Linked DNA regions of Homo sapiens. The protein of the gene in region 1 purifies or fractionates together with the protein of each later gene. This does not show direct contact. Each region holds a gene or a part of one and is shown on either strand. Other genes may lie near its edges. The genes, in order: HPRT1 and EPB41.

What was found.
Region 2: the proteins of HPRT1 (region 1) and EPB41 purify together in Homo sapiens (co-immunoprecipitation; one large-scale study listed by IntAct). This does not show direct contact.

What each region holds. Positions count from the first base shown.
Region 1 is NC_000023.11:134,473,414-134,477,239, forward strand, and holds part of HPRT1 (hypoxanthine-guanine phosphoribosyltransferase), read left to right. Parts: coding exon 1-52; intron 53-1,767; coding exon 1,768-1,951; intron 1,952-3,826. UniProt on the Homo sapiens protein: Converts guanine to guanosine monophosphate, and hypoxanthine to inosine monophosphate. Transfers the 5-phosphoribosyl group from 5-phosphoribosylpyrophosphate onto the purine.
Region 2 is NC_000001.11:28,990,790-28,994,615, forward strand, and holds part of EPB41 (protein 4.1), read left to right. Parts: intron 1-2,540; coding exon 2,541-2,753; intron 2,754-3,826. UniProt on the Homo sapiens protein: Protein 4.1 is a major structural element of the erythrocyte membrane skeleton. It plays a key role in regulating membrane physical properties of mechanical stability and deformability by stabilizing spectrin-actin interaction. Recruits DLG1 to membranes.

The DNA.
Region 1 (3,826 bases):
ATGCTGAGGATTTGGAAAGGGTGTTTATTCCTCATGGACTAATTATGGACAGGTAAGTAAGATCTTAAAATGAGGTTTTTTACTTTTTCTTGTGTTAATTTCAAACATCAGCAGCTGTTCTGAGTACTTGCTATTTGAACATAAACTAGGCCAACTTATTAAATAACTGATGCTTTCTAAAATCTTCTTTATTAAAAATAAAAGAGGAGGGCCTTACTAATTACTTAGTATCAGTTGTGGTATAGTGGGACTCTGTAGGGACCAGAACAAAGTAAACATTGAAGGGAGATGGAAGAAGGAACTCTAGCCAGAGTCTTGCATTTCTCAGTCCTAAACAGGGTAATGGACTGGGGCTGAATCACATGAAGGCAAGGTCAGATTTTTATTATTATGCACATCTAGCTTGAAAATTTTCTGTTAAGTCAATTACAGTGAAAAACCTTACCTGGTATTGAATGCTTGCATTGTATGTCTGGCTATTCTGTGTTTTTATTTTAAAATTATAATATCAAAATATTTGTGTTATAAAATATTCTAACTATGGAGGCCATAAACAAGAAGACTAAAGTTCTCTCCTTTCAGCCTTCTGTACACATTTCTTCTCAAGCACTGGCTATGCATGTATACTATATGCAAAAGTACATATATACATTTATATTTTAACGTATGAGTATAGTTTTAAATGTTATTGGACACTTTTAATATTAGTGTGTCTAGAGCTATCTAATATATTTTAAAGGTTGCATAGCATTCTGTCTTATGGAGATACCATAACTGATTTAACCAGTCCACTATTGATAGACACTATTTTGTTCTTACCGACTGTACTAGAAGAAACATTCTTTTACATGTTTGGTACTTGTTCAGCTTTATTCAAGTGGAATTTCTGGGTCAAGGGGAAAGAGTTTATTGAATATTTTGGTATTGCCAAATTTTCCTCTAAGAAGTTGAATCATTTTATACTCCTGATGTTATATGAGAGTACCTTTCTCTTCACAATTTGTCTCTTTTTTTTTTTTTTTTGAGACAAGGTCTCTGTTGCCCAGGCTGGGGTGCAGTGCAGCAGAATGATCACAGTTCACTGCAGTCTCAACCTCCTGGGTTCAAGCGATCCTTCCACCTCAGCCTCCTGAGTAGCTGGGACTATAGGTGTGCGCCACCACTCCCAGCTAATATTTTTATTTTGTAGAAACAGGGTTCGCCATGTTACCCAGCCTCCCAAAGTGCTGGGATTACAGGCATGAGCCACTGGCCCAGTTTCTACAGTCTCTCTTAATATTGTATATTATCCAAGAAATTTCATTTAATCAGAACCTGCCAGTCTGATAGGTGAAAATGGTATCTTGTTTTTATTTGCATTTAAAAAAAATTATGATAGTGGTATGCTTGGTTTTTTTGAAGGTATCAAATTTTTTACCTTATGAAACATGAGGGCAAAGGATGTGTTACGTGGAAGATTTAAAAAAAATTTTTAATGCATTTTTTTGAGACAAGGTCTTGCTCTATTGTCCAGGCTGGAGTGCAGTGGCACAATCACAGTTCACTCCAGCCTCAACATCCTGCACTAAAGTGATTTTCCCACCTCACCTCTCAAGTAGCTGGGACTACAGGTACATGCTACCATGCCTGGCTAATTTTTTTTTTTTTGCAGGCATGGGGTCTCACTATATTGCCCAGGTTGGTGTGGAAGTTTAATGACTAAGAGGTGTTTGTTATAAAGTTTAATGTATGAAACTTTCTATTAAATTCCTGATTTTATTTCTGTAGGACTGAACGTCTTGCTCGAGATGTGATGAAGGAGATGGGAGGCCATCACATTGTAGCCCTCTGTGTGCTCAAGGGGGGCTATAAATTCTTTGCTGACCTGCTGGATTACATCAAAGCACTGAATAGAAATAGTGATAGATCCATTCCTATGACTGTAGATTTTATCAGACTGAAGAGCTATTGTGTGAGTATATTTAATATATGATTCTTTTTAGTGGCAACAGTAGGTTTTCTTATATTTTCTTTGAATCTCTGCAAACCATACTTGCTTTCATTTCACTTGGTTACAGTGAGATTTTTCTAACATATTCACTAGTACTTTACATCAAAGCCAATACTGTTTTTTTAAAACTAGTCACCTTGGAGGATATATACTTATTTTACAGGTGTGTGTGGTTTTTTAAATAAACTCCTTTTAGGAATTGCTGTTGGGACTTGGGATACTTTTTTCACTATACATACTGGTGACAGATACCCTCTCTTGAGCTACATCGGTTTGTGGGGAGTCAAAAGTCCTTTGGAGCTAGGTTTGACAAATAAGGTGGGTTAACACTTGTTTCCTAGAAAGCACATGGAGAGCTAGAGTATTGGCGAATTGAAGAAATCCCCCTTTTTTTTTAACACACTTAAGAAAGGGGACTGCAGGTATACTCAAGAGAGTAAGTCGCACCAGAAACCACTTTTGATCCACAGTCTGCCTGTGTCACACAATTGAAATGCATCACAACATTGACACTGTGGATGAAACAAAATCAGTGTGAATTTTAGTAGTGAATTTCATTCATAATTTGATCGTGCAAACGTTTGATTTTTATTACTTTAGACTATTGTTTCTGATTTTATGTTGGGTTGGTATTTCCTGTGAGTTACTGTTTTCCTTTAAAATAGGAATTTTTCATACTCTTCAAAGATTAGAACAAATGTCCAGTTTTTGCTGTTTCATGAATGAGTCCTGTCCATCTTTGTAGAAACTCGCCTTATGTTCACATTTTTATTGAGAATAAGACCACTTATCTACATTTAACTATCAACCTCATCCTCTCCATTAATCATCTATTTTAGTGACCCAAGTTTTTGACCTTTTCCATGTTTACATCAATCCTGTAGGTGATTGGGCAGCCATTTAAGTATTATTATAGACATTTTCACTATCCCATTAAAACCCTTTATGCCCATACATCATAACACTACTTCCTACCCATAAGCTCCTTTTAACTTGTTAAAGTCTTGCTTGAATTAAAGACTTGTTTAAACACAAAATTTAGACTTTTACTCAACAAAAGTGATTGATTGATTGATTGATTGATTGATGGTTTACAGTAGGACTTCATTCTAGTCATTATAGCTGCTGGCAGTATAACTGGCCAGCCTTTAATACATTGCTGCTTAGAGTCAAAGCATGTACTTAGAGTTGGTATGATTTATCTTTTTGGTCTTCTATAGCCTCCTTCCCCATCCCCATCAGTCTTAATCAGTCTTGTTACGTTATGACTAATCTTTGGGGATTTGTGCAGAATGTTATTTTAGATAAGCAAAAACGAGCAAAATAGGGGAGTTTAACTTTAATATTTTCTTTTAAAAAGCATTTCATGTTATAAGATCAATTCTGAGTGGTAGAAATGCTTTGACATTTTATTTCCATTTTCTACTTTTAGTTTTTTTCCTATTTGTTTAAGATCTTAGAGGATTATTAAGCTGAACTCCTCAACTGATAAAAAGCATGACATCTTAAACATAAGCAAAGCATATTTTTAGGTTAATTTTCACATAGAAAACAGTTTATTTTATGTGAAATTCTATGTAGATATACTATTTTTTTGGTATTTATTGATATGTTTATTTTATTTTATTTTATTTTATTTTATTTTATTTTATTTTATTTATTTATTTTTTTTTTTGAGACAGAGTCTCACTCTGTTGCCCAGGCTGGAGTGCAGTGGCATGATCGTAGCTCACTGCAACCTCCACCTCCCGGGTTCAAGCAATTCTTCTGTCTCAGCCTCCCGAGTAGCTGGGACTACAGGTGCCTGCCACTATGCCCGGCTAATTTTTGTGTTTT
Region 2 (3,826 bases), on another chromosome or scaffold:
CATTTGAATCAGAACTTGTCTGCATTGTCTAAAGTTCATAGATTCGTACTCAAGTTGACACAGATGATGGACAGTTAATTTTAGATTTAACTAAAATCTCATTCATTAAGATTTAATTCCGAATTGAAATAAATTGTCCGTAGGTTATTTGTCTTCATGTGGAGAAAAAGAAACGATATTGTTAGTAAAATTTCAAGGAGATATTATTTAAAAGAACAAACTATTTTAGGCCTTTTGGAAACTAATATTTATAGTCAAAACCTTGTGGATCAGAGTCGTCTGGATAAAGGTTTATTTGCCTAACCATGTTTCTGTATATGTAATAGGATTTTATTTAAATGGTTCTTTTTTATCCAGAATTTTTTAAAAAGCGTGTTTGCTTTATATTATAAATATATAAATATATATTTATATTACATTTAAGTGTATAATATATATAAATATAGGATTGTACCAGTCTTCATCCAGAGTAGCTTGGATTTTTTGGAAGCCTATGTAAATTTTTAATGTTTGTTTATTCATTCAACAAATATTTATTGAAAACCTACCATGTGTGCCAGGCCCTAGGCTGGATATACCTTGGTAAATAAAAACTGCAATATGGTGAAGAGGTTTAAAATCATGGATTTTGGGGCTGAGTGTGGTGGCTCATGCCTGTAAATCCAGCACTCTGGGAGACTGAGGCAGGAGGATCACTAGAGCCCCGGAGTTCGAGACCAACCTGGGCAACATGGAGAAACACCATCTCTACAAAAAAGTAAAAAACTAGCTAGGCATGGTGGCTCTCCTGTAGTCCCAGCTACTTGGGATGTTGAGGTGGGAGGATCACTTGAGTCTGAGAGGTCGAGGCTGCATTGAGCCATGATTATGTCACTGCACTCCAGCCTGGGTGATAGAGTGAGACTCTTGTCTCAAAAAAAAAAAAAAAAAGCAAAAAAAACAAATCGTGGATTCTGAAGCCAGACTGGTATGTGACTTATTAATTGTATGATCCTAGGCAAGTTACTTAATTTCTCTGGCCTGTTTTACAACCCTGCAGGCCAGGTACTATTATCCTCCCTCTATCAAGTGGGGATATAATAATACTACGTGCCTCGCAGGGTAGTTATGAGGATTGAGTTAGTTCACATAAGTAATTTTCTTAGAATAGTGACTGGCCCATTGTAATTGTTGTATAAATGTTTGGTATTATTATTATTATAAAACAGACATGATTTCTACCCTTGTGGACTTTAATAGAGAAGACAAAAAAGTAGCAAATAAAAATAATTATTTATTGTAATAAGTTATAAAGCCACCAGAGTACTGATATGAAAGACAGTAGAGCGGGCATAGATAGATAGGATAGCCAGTGAAGAGACTTCCTGAGGTTGCAGTGAGAGGGTCATGAAAGATCGGAAGGAGTCTTTTAGATTACTTCCAGTATTTAATGCAGGAGTCAAATAATTAATTTCTTTTTCCTAATTGTCAACCATGCATTCTTTTTTTCTTTTAATTGTTTTCCAGCTGTTACACAAGGAAGTAACATATTCTTTTAAAAGAAAATAATTAGTCGGGTTTAGATAAAAATATGTCGGTAGTTTTGTTGTGTTGAAAGTAAAAGTAAAAATGTATGCCGGCCAGGCACGGTTGCTCACGCCTGTAATCCCAACACTTTGGGAGGCCGAGGCGGGCAGATCATGAGGTCAGGAGATCAAAACCATCCTGGCTAACGTGGTGAAACCCCATCTCTACTAAAAGTACAAAAAAATTAGCTGGGCGTGGTGGCGGGCGCCTGTAGTCCCAGCTATTCAGGAGGCCCAGGCAGGAGAATCGCTTGAACCCTGGAGGCGGAGCTTGGAGTAAGCCGAGATCGCGCCACTGCACTCCAGCCTGGGCTACAGAGTGAGACTCCGTCTCAAAAAAAAATGTATACCAAAAATGTTATCCTACTTATCGGTATTATTTGGGGATAATTTAAGATTGCACCAGGAAACTCTTCCTTCATTGACTCTTCTTTGCATTTAACATGATTAATATTGGGTAGAAAGGTGTTAGCTGGTAGTTAAAATTTTTAGCCTACTACATGTTTGCTTAATGATGTGAAATTGGTCCCAAGCATTTCTCTTAGAATTAAAATTAATTTAAAATTTAGAATATGTAACAAGTCACATCTTATTTTGCAGTTTGTAAGGCTACATTGCTAAAATTGAGGAGCATGGGCAGAGACAATAACGTTTTTGTTAAACTTTAATAATACCGTGTAATGGCTTGGTCAGGAAGAATATATAATGCTGAGAGCAATGGATTGGTATCCTCCGGTTTACCTGAGACCTTCATTTATTGATTTGATGGGATTCTACCTGAGAAGTTTTAATAACAAAGTCTTTAGGGCATTTGGGGGATCATACTATTTTTTATAGAAAAATATTTAATATTAATGTCACCTATATTTGTTTTAGTTCATGCTTTTATTGGTAAGATTATTATAGGTAAAAGCATATACAGCATGTTTTGTGAAATGTGTTTATTACTGACTTGGCGATGTCATGGATATGTAGCCTGCTCAGGAAGAACTCAGAGAAGATCCAGATTTTGAAATTAAGGAAGGAGAAGGACTTGAAGAGTGCTCCAAAATAGAAGTAAAAGAAGAAAGCCCTCAATCAAAAGCAGAAACAGAATTAAAAGCTTCCCAAAAACCAATCAGAAAACACAGGAACATGCACTGCAAGGTTTCTTTGTTGGATGACACAGTTTATGAATGTGTTGTGGAGGTGAGTATGTTTTCATTTCCAACAATCAGAACTCTTACAGGTGGTTTCATCTAGAGTTGCGTAAGTGGTGATTTTGCCCACGATAAGACTCACTGTAGTGATTATTTCTTTTTTCTTTTTTTTTTTTTTTTTGAGACAGAGTTTTGCTCTGTCACCCAGGCTGGAGTGCAGTGGCATGATCTTGGCTCACTGTAGCCCCCAACTCCCATGTTCAAGTGATTCTCCTGTCTCAGCCTCCCGAGTAGCTGGGATTACAGCCATGTGCCACCATGCCAGGCTAATTTTTTGTATTTTTAGTAGAGACAGATTTCACCATATTGGTCAGGCTGGTCTTGAAGTCCGGGCCTCAAGTGATCTGCCCACCTCGGCCTCCCAAATTGCTGGGATTACAGGCATGAGCCACTGCGCCCGGCCTTTAATGATTATTTCTGTAGATGGAAGTATTAATGGTGATTTTCTGGAGGTGGGATTATGGGAAGATGATGAGTAAGTCTTTAAGTCCAGTAAATGCCATTTCTTAAAATTTTCTGTTTTCTGAAAGAATAAGTGATTGAATCAGGATTGAAGAAAAATATCAGAGTTATTCAGTTACTCTTTTTGCTCCTTCAGGACAAGTTGACAATTTTTTTTTTGTTTGTTTGTTTTTTGAGACAGAGTCTCTCTCTGTCGTCCAGGCTGGAGTGCAGTGGTACAATCTCGGCTCACTGCAAGCTCTGCCTCCTGGGTTCACGCCATTCTCCTGCCTCAGCCTCCAGAGTAGCTGGGACTACAGGCACCCGCCACCACGCCTGGCTAGTTTTTTGTGTTTTAAGTAGAGACGGGGTTTCACCGTGTTAGCCAGGCTGGTCTCGATCTCCTGACCTCGTGATCTGCCCGCCTCGGCCTCCCAAAGTGCTGGGTTTACAGGCTTGAGCCACCGCGCCCGGCCAGAGCAAGTTGAAATTTTAAAAAAATCTACTAACTATATATTTTTCAAACTGGAACAGTAGTTGTTTATTATGATATGCTTGATATATAAGCAATTGCAATTGTTACTAGTAACAGCTTTTATTGACAAAGTGTGTAATTCACAT